Regions from separate parts of the Homo sapiens genome. Here region 1 is linked to region 2. The links come from fine-mapping of genetic effects on gene expression. Tissue or cell type: whole blood. Region 2 holds a variant in brackets; the other region holds the start of a gene. All regions are shown on one strand. Distances are between the middles of the regions.

Region 1 (8,104 bases), 28 kb before region 2:
TCCATTAACTTGTTGGCCCTGTCTGTAATTTTTTTAAGTTGGTTTGCACTTTACCTGATTGGTTGATGAAAACAGCAATGTTTATCAAGTGTTGCACAAGCTCCCCCTTGATTGGCTGTGAGCAAATTAAAAGCTCATCAATTTCATAAGACTATGCTTGCTAATGAAGCAATTTGTTCTGAAAGGGTATTGACCTGGTTAGTTAGATTAATAATTTGTTGAGTAATTTTTAAGAAGAGTTTCTGGGCAGTAAAAATGGAGTTAAGGAGGTCCTCCAGTTCCCGTGCCAATACCAGCCAGAACGCCAATTATAGTCAGTGCTGTTAAAACTCCTCTTTCAGTTTTACCAGATTGAGCGTGTATAGGGAGGGGAATGCTATCGATAAGAGTGAGTTTGGGGATGATGTAAACTAGGGCCAAATCCCCGTTTAATTAGCAGACAAGCAGAGATATGCCTTGTTTCTATACAAAAATGTGATTTGTCATGTTAAGACAAATATCAACAGTGATACTAAAGTAGGGTTTTTCCATGCTGTGTAAGTCTGCTTTAATACCCTCAGAAGTGGAAGTCAAGGCTAGTTCATGTAATGGGGGAACACAGGCAGTACTTGACAGAATGAAAGAGGAATCAAAAGCCCAATTAGAGGAAGGAGTGATGGGATCCCAACCAATATTGTGAAATTATGGGGAGCTGCAGTTTTTTGCAATGATTTTGCCCGAAGTTGTGAGACTGAAACCAGAAGTTGTTATGTTTAAAATGATATTCTGGTGTGGGTCTGGGGAAAAGGGTAGATCCAGAATAGCTGGCTTCTTTCCACATAGTGGTTCTGTTGGGGGGCTTGGGAAATGAATAAAACACAAAGAAGAATTAGAATATCAGGTATGTTTGCATTTTTTGTTGTCAGTGACTAAGCTGACACATAATTGGGTGGAAAATAGGGTACAAGTGTGATTGCAAGCCTTGGAAATATTAGGAAAAAATCCAAGTAATGGCCTCATCCTCAATGAAGATAGAAGACAAAGGAGTGCTTAGTCAGATAGTATTACAGATAGACGACAGGTCCTCGGAGGTTGTAACAGGTTTGTTGGTATAGACTTTTAAGGAGTATGCAATTGACTGTGGGCTCGACCCTAGGATTGACAGCTTATTCTGGTCGGTTAACAGAAGTGGGGGCTGGAAATGTTTCTGATTGATTCCACTCAGAAGCAGGAATGGAAATGGCTGATAGACCTCTGCTAGGGAAGGTGTAAACACAGATTCAACAGTTTCTGTGATGTTGTGCAGTCCGTTGATGTTGTGTTTAAACAAGGTTTTAAAACTTCTTTGATGGTAGCTAAATATGGGTGTTGGAAAAAAACATTAGGAGAAATGATTGCAAGGGTTAATCTAGTTTAAAAAGCAAAAATATTGGTTACTGCATTTAAAACAGCTATTTTAGCATAAAAAATTATTTCACCCATTCAGGAGGAGGCAATTGAACTGCAAATATATGAGAATAACTATAACAATCCAACTTAAAGCTAATATTTAAAAAAAGGCACTAGGGAAAGTCAGTGGGCATTACTTATTTTTTGGCAGTCTTTTAAAGAGAGGCTTGAGGTCCACTAAAGTCTCACAAGTGTATTTGTCTGTGGAGACATCATCAGTTTGGGCAGCCCTCTGTGGTTTTACATAGGAGTGTGGATGCAGCTGGCAATCCAGAATACACAGCACTGAGATCAAGGTAGTCTCGACATCCCAATATCCTTGACCATTACCAGGAGAGAGTGTCCCCTGCTCTTTAGATGGAGGCTCCGCCTCCCCTGGGGCAGTCTGTGTGTCTCTCAAGTTGTACCTATGTGTGGACCATGGCTGTGCCCAGCATGGAGACCCCTTCCTACAGTGGGTACTACAGCCTTGCTGAAAACATTTGTCCCCTAGATTCTGAATAAAAGTGGTTAGAAAGAAAGAAAAGAAATGAAGCTCTGTTCAAAAGAAAAAGGAAAAAAAATTGCAAAACGATCTTCAGAAGCTGTGCTGCTGCCTATGGCAGTGTGGCAGGGAGGGGGCCTCGGGTGGGGTGAGTGCCCAAAAGGGTGGGCGAGGACGATTTGGGGAGTTCTCCAAAGGTTATGACCCACTATGGGCCTACCCTTCGTTCCCGGCTGTAAACCTCTAAACTTAGCATTTATCCAAGCTATCCCATGATCTGAATCCCAATCGGCTCTCTTAATCAGTAATTTTAAAAATTGCATCCAGCCAAAATGCCCAGTCTAAAGGGAGTTGAGGGTGATTCCTGGCTCTGTGGCCAGAGCATAAGAAACCATTTTGCCTCTCAAAGCTTCCCTGGGCTGTTAACAAGCTCTGGGCTTCAATGGCCACTACAACCTAATGAAGTTGTTTAATCACGTTAAACAGCTAATTAAACCTAAATCCAGAGAAGATTTCTCTAAGCCCTTCTCTAAAAGTTATTGGTGGCATGTTGGGGGATATACCCCCTCTCTAATGCAGCAAATACAACACTCATTGCAACTTCTCTTAGCCAAGCAGCGAAACATAGCACAAACATCTTGACCCAAAGCGAAAGGAAGCATTTTAGCAAAATATGTTTCAGTTCCCCAAGCTAAAATCAAGCACATATTAAAAGCCATGCTGAACGTAAATCATCCAGGTCACAGCACTAAGATATTACCAGGAATTCTGCGCTGGGATGGATCCTTTAACTGAGGAGATTAACAGAGCTGGAGTTCTGGACCAGTAATCTCAGTTCTTCTGAGAGTGAGCAAACAATTGCAGGCTAACTCCAAAATGCAAGCTCAAAGCAAAGTGTATTGAAGCACAGTTAGACACTCTCAGAGGGACAGTGGGCTAATTTCTGTGAAGTGAAGTCAGCCCCTCTATATAGAGTTTAAGGTGCTTCTGTGCGGTTTGTGGAGAGAAGTTGAGGTTGGGGCTGTGTCTGAGTAAAGGACGATGTCATCTGATTGGCAGTTTATGGTTATATAACTAAAATTAGGCAATGCATGTTTTTACCCATAATTTTCACAGAAAAGCCCACTCTGGGGCTTTTGTATAATAAAACCACATTTTATTATAATGATGGTATAATGAACTTGGGGTGACCTGAGGGCACAGTTTCATGTTACTGGGCATGTGCCCCTTTAGGGAATTTCCACCTGTGCCCTAGTTTCTCTTTCTTCAGGATGTGCTGGCCACAAACTATACCACCAACTTCATCAGTTAGGGGGGTCTTAGAATGGCTCTGGGGCTGAACTTAGGTGGGCCAGGAGCTGTTGCAGTGACAGGCTTTCTGCTCTCTTTTCTCCTCCCAGCTGCTAATGTCTACTTAACTGCCTGTTGGGAGCTGAAAAGGCCAAAGGGATTGTGACCAACTCAGCATTTCACTGGAGGCTATATGATCAAACAGCAAACTGTTTATCATGAATGCGGGATGTGGGTAAACTCACACTGCACCCGCCGCCAGAAGGTTTCCTGAGGGCCATCACTCCCTGGTGCTGGGCTCCTTGAAGTTATCTGTTGGGATATCTAGCACCTATTATTTGAAGGATGCAGTCTTGCAAGCCTGCTGTGAACCAAACGGCTGACTGACAATTACCTGACAATCACCCCCCCACCTTTTTCTCGTCATCTCTTTTACCTAATAAACTCAGAGAGCTTGAAAAGCTCAGAGCCCTTGTTCACTAGAAGCAAGGAACCCCCTGACCCCTTCTTCCTAATATACTCTTTTGTCTTTGTCTTTTACTCCCACATCCGCCCCCCACTTTGTTCAGTCAACCTGGGACTGTGGCCAATTACAACAGCCTAACAAAAGTGCCACAGGAGTGGAACATGGGGCAGTGGGCTCTGCTGAAGAGGATGCTAGGGGGCTTCTCAGGGGAGGAAATGCTAGATTTGCATTCTGATAGAGGAGCGTGACTTTTCCAGGTGAAGGTAGCAGGTGCTCCTGGCAGAAGAACCCACATAAGGAAGTGTCCAGAAGCCACACAGGTATGGCGTTCGACAAGAGCAGGTCTGGAACGGTGGCTCATGCTGAGGCAGGAGGATCATTTGAGGCCAGAGTTTGAAACCAACCTGGTAAAAATAGTAAGATTTCACCCCTTCAAAATCATTTTTTAAAAGTAGCCAGGCCGAGTGGCTCATGCTTGTAGTCCCAGCTACTCAGGAGGTTCATTTGAACCCTGGAATTTGAGGCTACAGTGAGCTATTATTGTGCCACCGCACTCCAGCCTGGGTGACAGAGCCAGACCCCATCTCAAAAACAAAACAAAACAAAACAACAAAATAACCCCAACAGCAATACAATCAATATGCAATAAGCGTCCACCCGGCATGTGTGATGGACTGTGGTAATGCTGATGGCATGGAGGGAGTGAGGTGGGCATCTGGGGAGTGTGGTGTTATTGGGGGTGGGGAGTAATCTGGAGGGTCTCATAGTCTTTCAGTGGTAGGTCTTTCTTCCTGAAGACACAGCAAACCCCCAACCCTAAGTATGGGAGGCAGGTGGGTTGGCCAAGAAGGACGTCTGGGGCTGCTCTTGGATCAGCAGGAGGGTGGGACCAAGGGTGCTGCTGGACCAAGGATGGGACTGGGCCAAGGGTGGGGCTGGGAAGCATCCTGTTTTGCATGTTTGATCAGGAGCTGCTGCCAAGTTGTGACTTTCACTTTCCCTTTTGGGTTCCAGGGTATATCTCAGAGCCTGGAGAACGTGTCTGGTTATTATGCAGATGCACGGCTGGAGGTGGGATCCACACAGCTCAGAACAGCTGGATCTTGCTCACACTCTTTCAAGAGAAGCTTCCTTGGTAAGTTAGGGGTGGTCTGACCTTCCCCATCTCCCCATCCTCACAGCAGCTCTATAAGAGAAGGGTCATTCACCTTTTGTAGATGAGCTCAGAGAGGTTAGGTAACTGACTGAGGTCACATCTCGGTCCATGGCAGAGCCTGAATTTGCACCCAGGTTTTAGCTGGACTTCTCCCTCCCTCTCTCTGGGCCCCCAAACAGTAGAGACAGAGGCAGAATCAGCTCAGCTGGGTTCACAAAGCTTCCTAGGGCTCAGCTCTAGTTCCAGCCTGCGTGAGACATGGCCCGGTGACCCCAGAAGGAAGGCAGATGTTGGGACTGTCCATTCCTTTAGAATATTTGGAGGAACCAGAGAAGGTGGAGGACAGGAGGTGATCCAGAGCCTGGCCTGTCCTTCTTGTGGCCTGGCCACCCTGAGGCTGGCCCCAGGGTGCTGCTGCTGAGGCCCGATGGGGACAGAGGATTTCCTTTGAGATACAAGGAACCTGGCTGGGCGCGGTGGCTCATGCCTGTAATCCCAGCACTTTGAGAGGCCGAGACGGGTAGATCACTTGAGGTTAGGAGTTCGAGACCTGCCTGGCCAATATGGAGAAACCCTGCCTCTACTAAAAATACAAAAAATTAGCTGGGCGTGGTGGCACAAGCCAGTAATCCCAGCTACTTGGGAGGCTGAGGCATGAGAATCACTTGAACCCAGGTGATGAAGGTTGCAGTGAGTCGAGATCGCACCAGTCACTCCAGCCTGAGTGCACTCCTGACAGAGTGAGACTCTGTCTCAAAAAAAAAAAAGAGAGAGAGAGCGAAAAGAGATAACAAGGAACCCAGAGGTTGTTTCACCCACCCTGACTCTGAGCACCTACTTGAGCCAGGCCCTGTGGGTAAACTGAGGCCATGGGAGATGAGTGACTCGCTGAGGGTCCCATGTCAGGAAGTTGAGCAGGTAGATCACAGGACTCCATGTCCCTGACACTCACCTGGTTCCTTTTCAGGCCTCTGGGTGATAGAGAAGAAAGAAGCTGTGCTGTTCCCTAGTGGGAAAGATGGCCCAGACAGGGGCAGTGAGAACGGCATGTTGCAGAATGGTGTCTGCCACATGATCCCAGCTTGACAATCATGAGATTAAAAGTCAAACTGTGGAAGCGTGAGCATAACTGTGGGAGCGTGAGCTTAGCCCTCTGTGTTTGTAGAAGCAGAAACAAACCTGGAAGATTTTGGATTATTAACATTATACTTTCTTGCTTCAATGTCAGAGTCAGGAGGTCAGGTGTTGACCTTCCCCCTGCCCTCCAAGAGGTGTGTGACACTGGGGAAGTCACTTCCCCTCTCTGAGCCTCAGGGTTTTTCACCTGCCTTAGGGGGTTAGGATGCCCTACCCTGCTGACCCCCAGCAGGCTGCTGACCCCATCTGGGGTGAGGTGGGAGGCGGGGCAGTGCGAGTCAGGGGAAAGTTGACATTGCAGCCCAGATGCCTGCAGGGGCTGCAGGAAAGTGGGGAGAGCTGGAGGCCTGCATGGGCTTCTCAGATCCAGGTGATGCCCAGCAGGTGAGAGGGTGGGCCTGGCTCCTCAGAGCTCAGATGACGGAACATTTGCTATAAACTCAGGTGCAATTACATTTGACATGCTGGCAACCAAATAAAAGGCAAACCTTGCATATGCCACACACACACTCACAAATTCACACACACACACACACACACACACGCACACTCACACCTGCTATTCAGATTTCACTTCATGGAGCCCTGTGTTTCTCACCTCTGTGTCGTGGCCTCGAAGGGTCTTTGATTCTGTGCAGCTTCTTTTCCTCCTCATTTCTTTAAGGGAGGCATCGCATTCATTAGTCTTTTTTTTCTGACGGAGTCTTGCTCTGTCGCCCAGGCTGGAGTGCAAGTAGCACCATCGGCTCACTGCACCCTCCGCCTCCTGGGTTCAAGTGATTCTCCAGCTCACCCTCCTGAGTAGCTGGGACTACAGAGGCGTGCCACCACGCCCGGCTAATTTTTAGTATTTTTAGTAGAGACGGGGTTTCACCATGTTAGCCAGGATGTTCTCGATCTCCTGACCTTGTGATCCACCCACCTCCGCCACCCAAAGTGCTGGGATTACAGGCATGAGCCACCGTGCCAGGCGCATTCCTTAGTCTTAATGGGCATAGTGTTAGGGACCCGCCTACTCCCTATGGCAGGAGATTTAGTGATTTCTCCCTTTTTGGTGATAGAAACAACGCTGCATGGCACCCTCTAAAGCCCCTGTCCCTGCACACTTGCCCTCTGCTCCCTGGAGGCTGAGACCTAGGAGTGGGTGCTGTGCCATGACGTGGGGGCACTTTGTAAAGTGTGCTGAGTATCGCTGACGATCCTCCAGGACACCAGAACCTTTCACACTCCATCAACAGTGAAGGGGCTTGTGCCACCTTTACCTCCCTAACAGTGGACATTATTAGTCACTTTAGGTTTGGCTTATCTAATGTTTCAAAAACGTATGTCTCTGTGATCACTTACATATATGGTTCAAAAGTGAGCTTGAGTGCCTTTTCATATGGTTAACGTTAATTTCTATTTCTTCAGATCCTATCTTTTACCCATTTTTAAATTTTATTTATTTATTTATTTATTTATGAGATGGAGTCTGGCTTTGTTGCCCAGGCTGAAGTGCAGTGGCGCAATCTCAGCTCACTGCAACCTCCACCTCCGGGGTTCAAGCAATTCTCCTGTCTCAGCCTCCCAAGTAGCTAGGACTACAGGCGCGTGCCTCCACACCTGGCAAATTTTGATATTTTTAGTAGAGTCAGAGTTTCACCATATTGGTCAGGCTGGTCTCGAACTCCTGACCTCAGGTGATCCACCCGCCTTGGCCTGCCAAAGTGCTGGGATTACAGGTATGAGCCACCGCACCTGGCTATATTTTTAGAAACTTGATTTCAGTCTTTTCATGTTGATTTGAGCATTTCTTGTGGATTGTGGACAGTTACCTTTGCTTTAAGTATTGCAAACCGTGCTTCCTATTCTTTCATTTTATTCTGGCTCTTGAATGATGTTCTTTCTAATTTTTAATTTGTAAGAGGTAAAACTCTATTCAATTTTCCCTTTAAGTCTTCTGGGAATTGAGTTTTGATTCGAAAGGTCTTCCCAACTCAACATTGTTTTTAACATTTCTTCTAGTATAGTTTTAATTTTTTCTTTCTGGGGTACACTTAGATCCCTTTGGGATTGATTTACTTATTTTTGGAGAAGAATTTGTTTCTTCTTCTTTTAAATGTAGGACCTATTTCATGGGTACCTACTACAGACAAAGAAGAAC
Region 2 (8,104 bases):
GAACTCTCCTTATCTGCTATGAACCCAGCCATCCCAAGGAAAAAGGCAAATGCACTTGCCTCTTCCCCAGTGAGAGCCACACACAGCATCTCCACCTTCTGCATGCTGAAGTTATGTCACAGGAGGAGGGCCTCAGCACACGATCAATTTTTCTTTTGGTCCATTGGCAGCTTCTGTCTCAGAATTTTTGTGTGTGTATATTTGTAGAAAATAAAGAGGTACGGTCAAGGCTACAGCCACTACTGACCATTGCTGCCACCATCAGAAGTCTTGAATTGTTCCACTCAATGTTCCTCTTACTTATGGGCAAAGTCATTCTCGTGGTGTCTAAGCTCCTTGATGGTCTGGCCTCAGTAAGTTGGTGAAATTTCCTATTCACATTTACACTAATACTCTAACACTTTAGAGTATTACAAGGAGCAATCCTAGGGGATCCCTCAATTCCTCCTGTCCTGCTGTGTAATAACAACATGAGCTTCCCTGGAGGAACATGATGCATGATTATATCCAACCCAGTGACGTCATTGCTATCCCTACATCAGGGAGCATGAGAAGCCAGCTATGGTTTCTGCTGAAACAACTTTTGTCAACCTTAGATACTGAAACTTCCAGACCTAAAAGTCTGTGAGTTAGGAGTATGTATCATAAACAAAATTTTTGAAAGTGGTTTATTGTGGGTAACCATAGAGCTATCACCCTCATCTTAACCTCTGACTGCCCAGCTCCATGAATTCTGGCTATTACAGGAAATGGGGAAAATTCTGGGTATGGATTCAAAACATATCACATCCTAAGGGCAGCTCCCAGCCTCTGATATGGAGCTGAGTCCCCTTTGGGCCATTTCCATGGGACCTAAGGCTGTCATTTCCGGGGTTGAGATTCACTGGGTGCCAAGTGGTCAGCCTTGATGAGTGGGGTCCGTGTTGTGTGGTTACATAGAGCTCCACATTAGGCAAGTTGGTTAATGAGCCCATTCTGAAAATGTCAGGCTGCCTGGGGAACAGAGGAGATTTGAGCCTTAAAGAGTGACTTCTTCCCTTGTTTATTAACAGCCTCTGAGCCAGGCATGGTGACTCACGCCTGTAATCCCAGCACATTGGGAGACCAAGGCGAGTGGATCAGTTGAAGTCAGGAGTTGGAGACCAGCCTGGTCAACATGGTGAAACCCTATTTCTACTAGAAATACAAAAACTAGCCACCAGACATGGTGACGGGTGCCTGTAATCCCAGCTACTTTGGAGGCTGAGGCACGAGAATTGCTTGAACCTGGGAGGCAGAGGTTGCAGTGAGCCGAGATTGCACCACTGCACTCCAGCCTGGGCGATACAGTGAGACCCAGTCTCAAAAAAAAAAAAAAAAGAGTCTTTTTTGATGGTGGACATCTTCCAATGAGCATTCACATGGGACAGATTTTTTTTTAGTTCTACCGTTGTTCTGAAAGCTCTATGTATGTTCCTCTTCCCTAAAAATCTTTGTCACCAAGCCTCCAGATTTATTCCTTCTAAAATGTTGAAATTCCAGCTAATTCCTTAGTTGTTACCCAGGAAACAATGCAGATCCTGGTCCGAGGATGCAGCTCCTTCCAGGCAGCCTGGACTGTGAGGTGTGCTCCATTGCTCTTCAGGAACCGTCCTTGAGAGGCGTTCCACAGCAGGCCAGACCTGGGGGGAGCAGGTGGGCCAGGCGGAAAGCACAGCACAATTTGAGAGATGCTGAGTACTCATGACTCTGTGTAAGCACCTGAATTCAGCCCTCATGGTCTTTTCTGAGCTGTCAGTCATTTATCTCTATTTAGTCATTTTGCGAATTGGAGTTAGCTTCCTTCCCTCTACACTCAAAGACGGCATGTCAACATTTTAGGCCTCTGGGTGGAATGAACTCCCAGTTTCCTGGGAGGGAGCTGATTGGCATCTATTCGCCTCTTCCTAGTTTTGTGGGGTTTCCCAGCATGTGGAGTCATAGAGAAAGACTGGTCCCACCTTCTATGTAATGCCCAAGAGAATAGATGACTCTCTGTCCACCCCCACCCTGGCATCCAGGGCTTCTGGACAAGACCTAGGCTGGCTAATTGGCTGCTTCCACATGGGATCCTGAATCTGGAGCAAGTGAGGCAAAGCCCAGGGTGCTTAGAATCCATTCTCAGTGAGAGCAGCAGGACTGCCCGGGAGGGGAATAGAGACGGGGACGACCGAGTCCTGCACCAGCAGAGATGACGTCCGCAGGTGGCGGGGCAGCGCTGTGGCCGTGTCACTCCTCACAAAGCAGGGCTCTTGTGCTCGCAGCCTTCGATACCGTCTCACTGTCTTGGCTTCTATTTATCTTCCAAGCCAATTTCCAGCCTCCTACACACGTGGGGTTCTTCTGGTATCATTCCAGTGAATTTCATGTTGTTTTCTGCCCTAAGAAAACAGAGTTGGTACCTCTGCTCGACCAAGAAGCCTGATTGATACAGACTGAGAGCTGCAGGCTGTGTTTATTTGCTTCATTAACAAGAACAACTTAGGAATGGCAACTTCCATTGATGAGCTTCCTACTTTGTTCTGCGGTTGGAAAACAAACAGTTGTTTCCCTGTTGACGACTGGCCACACTGGAGAGGTGAACAGGTGAGTCACAGGAATCACTGCTTCTGCTCCCTTTAAATCTTGATGATGGCAGAAATCTCTGTAACTGCCTCTGTAACTCCTCCATGAAGTTGGTGTTGACTTTGAGTAAAATATTTAGGCAGGTATGTAAAACCAATGGCCTCCACTGGCGTATGTCACTGAAATAGTCCCCGTCCGTGGGTCTGGGTGAACAATCTGAAGCTTCCAAGAGTATTCTTTCCAGTTATCCACCCAGGAATTTGAAAAATGATGACCAGGTGAGGGTGGGACCCTGATGGACTTAATCAAAGGTAAACGAATATAGATATTCACTAATTACTTGTGCCCTATAATCTCCCCCTCTGACCCAGGCCTAAGAATTGGGTGACAAGCAGGGACTATCCAGCCTGATGACCTGTGACAGGTATCCACTCACCAGATTGGGGGTTTTGTAAAGTCAGTGGACTGTCTTCCAGCTCTATTTTGGAACCTTGTTCCTATCAAATGTCCCTTGAGCCATGATCATGCGCCCTCCTGGTGCGTGACCTGGCGCCCGCACTCTCTTTTCTTCTGGCAGTTACCTGCCTCCCCTACAGTCGGCCTCTTGGAATTTCTCCCACCCTAAAGAGACCAGAGTCCCAGCCCCTCCCCTATTATAGAGAGTTCCTGGTTATCCATTGACTCTTCTCGTTAAAGGAGCGGGAAATCTTTTGGGCCCTGGCAGGAAACAGCGTGGGCAGGAAGTGCTTGAGAAATCAAATCTAGCATTTCAGCCTCCTACACACTTTGAGTCCTCCTTCTTCTTCATCATGCCAACTAATTTCTGGCTTTTTATGTCACAAAGAAGTGATCAGCATTTAGTTGAGGGTGGCATGGCTAACACTGGGCACAGCTGGAATCCCAGCCTGCTGCTGGAGCAAACCGTGCCAGCTGAGGATGACCATGGCAAGGAAACCAAATGATGATTCCTCTTCCTTGCCGACCTCCGTCAGACCCCACCATGCAAATAAATGGTCTTCAGCTCTTCGGAGCTTTGACAGCGAGCTCTTTCTCCTGCTGCAGCATCTCACTCCTTTCCATTCTGCAGTTCACTCTCAAGGCCATACTGACTTGAACACTGGCTGTCTAGAAACAGAGAGGCAGGCAGCGGCAGACAGGAAGAGAGATGGAGCAGAGTCCTCCAGCGGGAGCTGCACCTCGGAAGCATCCTTAGATGCGGCTTGGAGTTGGGATCCTTCAATTCCCCTCAGGTATCCCTATTGCAATTTTCTGAATACATCTTGTGTTAGGCTAAATAACAGCCCCTGACAGATGTGGGTGTC[C/T]TAATCATAGGACTTGTGATTATGTCACCTTCCATCATAAAAGGGACCTCACAGGTGTGATCCAGTCAAGGATCTGGAGATGAGAGGTTATCTGCGATTATCTGGGTGGGCCCAAGGTATCCACAAGGGTCCTTATAAGGCGGAGACAGTAGGGTGAGAGGGAGAAAAGGAGATGAGATGATAGAAGGGGAGAGAAACTGAGAGAGATCAGAGGATGCTACAAGGCTGGCTTGAAGACGAAGGGAGAAGCCAGGAGCTGAGGACAGCAGGTGCCTCTAAAAGCTGGAAAAGGTAAGGGAATTGCTTCTCCCAGAGCCTCCCCAAGGAATGCAGCTCTACCCATGCCTTGATTTTAGAACTCTACTGGAAGAGAACAACTTTGTGTTGGTTCAAGTCACTGTGTCTGTAGGGCTTTGTTACAGCAGGAGAGGTACTAGCACACCACTCTGTCCCCATCAGGGCCCTCATGTGCGCTTAGAAGATCTAGTGAGGATGAAATTCATCATGTAACCAGAAACCTATAGAAACGGTTTCTGAATTTGTTTTTCATAGGAGAGTCAGCCAAAAATATCAACAGCCACAATTTATTGGACGCCTTCAGGAGAAATGTCAAAGGCCTTTGTCCAAAGTGAGTGGTCCTGCTTCATGTCCCAGCATTCCTTGTCCCCTTTCCACAAGCTGAGAGCAGGTGCTCCCCAGAATGAGGGGGGTGAGAAGGGTTCACTATTGCTCTGTCCACCTCTCAACACAAAACATGATTCTACCTGTACCAATTATCCTGAGGCTTTGTGGTCTGCAACCAACCCTTTGGTGCCAATTTTTCTATTAGGTAGGACCCTTTGGATGCAAGTAGAACATAGCAAAGCAAAACCAAGACAAAAGCAAATGCAAAAACAAAAACAAATGAAAAATCTTAAAAAATCTTCCCGCTACCTCAAGAGTGGAGGCATATATTTGAATGATCCAGAGAGAAAGCTCACAGAATTAAAGAAATCCTTGGGTGGGTGGGCGTGCGTGCACATTTTTTAAAAACAGGCTTAGGGAAGACCAGGGACCCAGAAAGCCTCAGGGCTCTCAGCGGTAGGGAACGAGCTACACTCAAGGCCTCAGCTCCACTGCCTGCTGCCTCCAAGGGTTTTCTTTCAGGTCCTCCAATTTCCAGGGGAGAGACTCAGATGGGTCCCGGGGGCTAGAGGACAGAGTAAAGAAGGCACTGTCACACCAGGGGGATGTGAGCTGAGCAGGCAGGCCCCCTAACCTGGGCCTTTTCGGAAGCCCCCTCCTCATCCCCGTGGGAGCAGTGGGGGAAAGGGGCCTCTGCCCCCTGCCCACCTCCCTTACTAGTGTCTCCCTAGCTGCTCCCTGCAGAGCCTAGGCTCTGCAGTCATGGGGTCCGCATTGTCCTGGTGGGTGGAGTGCCTGAGCCTCAAAAGCCCCACCTGTGCTTTTCACTCCCTACTGCATGATTGAGAAGCAGACCTACTTCGCGATTGAGAAGCAGATTAAGGCTTTCCCCTTCCCCATCAAGGTATCTTTTTTTCTTCCTTCTTTCTTCCTCAGACCCCATCTGGTGTCCCTTCTCTCCTCCTCTCCCGCTCCATTCACCTGCCCTCTGTCTCAGGTCTCTCTACCAGCGTCTGGCAGCTGGGGAGGCTGGTGGGCTGCCCTGGTCCCATGGCTGATTGGAAAAATCCTGTGGCTCCAGGGAGCCGGCTTTTTAGATGCTGGTGGGGAGGAGCCTCACCTCGCTTCCAGGCCTGCGTTTCACCCCAGGACTCATTAGGAGAATTTCTGCACCAGGGTTAGAAGAGAATTCATCGCATGTTTTCCCTACTGTAATAAGCGAGACCCTTCTTTCTTTCCTTGTGCCTGGCGACCACAGCAGGAAGGCAGGAAGGTGCCTGCAGATTCCCAGGAACAAAGCTGCTCCCAGAACCCTCACATAGTAGGGTGACTCTTAGGATAAGAAATGTATATCCACGGGCTAGGATTTGGGAACCAAGGGACGACGTGGCAATCCAGGGCTCGTAGTGAGGGTGCAGCAGCCAGGACTGGGGCAAAGACAGATGTCTGATGATTGTAAAATGAGATGATTTCTATTCAGTTCAGTTCTATGTGAGGCTGTACTCAAAAGAGGTGATGTTGTTATTCAGGCTTCCTAATCTTTGGTGAGTAAAACAATTGTTGATTCCCACAGCTTGTTTTCTTCTTGCCAGCTTTCTCCCATCGTGTGATAGACCAAAACCTTGAACTGGAAAATCTCTGTGGTGTTCTACAAGAGCTAGGGACCCTTAGGTGTGAGATTTGGAGACTTTCAATGGTTAGACTTGGCCTAAGCAGCAATAGATCAGTCACCCCAAATTCTCTCCTTTGTCTTCTTTTAATGTCGTCCTCCATCAAGGAAGGAACCAGATTGGGGCCAACCTTTCAGACGGATGTCCATGGGATGCTCGAGCTGCCTTTCCCCAACAAGTGGTGTCAACAGGGATCTGGAGAGGTCGTGTGCTGGCCTCCAGGGGGTACCCCAGGGAACGGTGGGATGTGAGAGTGACAGACCAGGAGGATGGGGGCCTTTATCAGTCAAGTGCTGTTCTGTCCCCACCATCCTTTAGCTGGTGAATAATCTCAGGGGGATTATTAAAAGCCCAGAAGCAAAGAAGCATTTGAAAGGTCCGTATCTAGGAGTCTGGTTTCTCAGAGGATCAGGGAGGGATAAGATTGGCTAAAAGACAGATTTGGGACTTACTATCAGAAAAGAATCACTAGGAAAATCTAATATTGGTACATGGAAAAGCAACATGTGGATTGAATGATGGGATTTCCTGTGAAGAAAAGGTAAGGCATGCAAGCCAGACAGGACAGAATGATGGGCGAAAATCAAGCCACGCACCTCAAACTCCTCTCGAGCTGAGATCCAGAAAGACAGGGGCATGGAATTGCTGCTGGGTCTGGCAGGGGGCAAGAGCCAAACAGATGAAGGGTACATGTGACTGCCATTCAGGGCCACGATAGAGGAAATGATCAGAAGTCACTTTCTAGAGGCTGTAGATGGGAGTTTGATAAGGACCATGGGGGACAGCTGAGATCTGGGCAGATTTGAGAAGGGAGAGCAGAACAGACTGCGTCAAAAGTGGATCCGTGAGTTTCCTGGCGACCCAGGTATAGAAGGGATGCAGGAGTGGCCTGTACTTTCAGAAGCACATGCAGGAGGATGCTGGTCTGGGACTGGAGATGAAAGAGGTCCAGAGAAAATGGGACACGCTCAGACAGGGGAGCTGTGGGTGGAGTTCAGGACAAAGTCTGATGTAAGGCTCATGGAAGACCTTCCTGAAGGAATTGCCCCTCTCCAGGAAGTAAGGAGGGTGGATTTGTTTCCACAGTGGGAATTCCTGGCAGGTCCAGAACTTCTTGACTTTCTGTCTCTCAATACTGTAGACCTGCAAGATGGATAACAGAGGCATTAGGGAAACTGATGCCTACGCCACAAAGTTTAAATACAGCACAAGGAAAGAAGCTACTTTGATCCAGAAAACACTGCTAACCCCATCCAAGACTGAGATGGAGCAGGGCCCTATGGGGTGAGATAAGCGTCTGAGGAGCAGGCTGCAGGGAGGAATGTTCCAGCTGCCACTGAAGCAACACACGAGGCTGAGGCTTGAAAGCTCAAAGGCCGAGGGAGCCGTAGCTTTGGGAAGGAGCAGCTGATGGGGACGATGGGTCACCTAAGCCGAGCTGTACCCTCGTCTGCTCCACCTCGAGTTTGAATTCAACAAGTCTATTGCTCCAGTGTTTTCTGAATTATCTGCATATTCAGAATTCAGCCTGCGGAGCCTCAGCTCTTCTGAATATTTAAATGACGCTCAGTTGCGATCTGCATCTCTCATCATGGTGTCTGACCCAAAGATCACAAAGCTGAAGTCTAGCAAATGACAGGAAGAACTAAGAGAAAGTGCTGCTGCAAAAAGAGTTTAATGAGAGGTAAATGGGAGGGAATGTTGGCCGGAGACCACAGAATGGAAGTGGAGAAACAGATGATTCATTCATTCATCCAATCATTCATTTATGAAGCACTCATTGACACCCCTTCTTCTTCGTGCCTTGCACTCACTGAGATCTATAACAAAGATGAGTCAGAGTCCTGTCCTGTGTGGAGCTCAAAGTCAAGATGGGGCACACACACAGATGACAATGCCATGGGA

Evidence for each region. PIP is the estimated chance that this variant, and not a neighbour inherited with it, causes the effect.
Region 1: APOL3 starts here. The variant in region 2 is fine-mapped to the expression of APOL3 in whole blood (TOPMed, PIP above 0.99).

Annotation. Positions count from the first base shown.
Region 1 is chr22:36,157,368-36,165,471 of GRCh38, reverse strand. APOL3 (apolipoprotein L3) reads left to right here and starts at 4,717. Exons shown (of 4, transcript NM_145639.2): 1 at 4,717-4,803. RefSeq lists enhancers at 3,114-3,273, 3,225-3,798.
Region 2 is chr22:36,129,591-36,137,694 of GRCh38, reverse strand. No RefSeq gene overlaps it. Among named protein-coding and RNA genes, the nearest start is that of APOL3, 27 kb to the left of the region's middle. RefSeq lists enhancers at 2,293-3,492, 5,219-5,719. The variant C/T (reference allele first, on the strand shown) is at 3,906.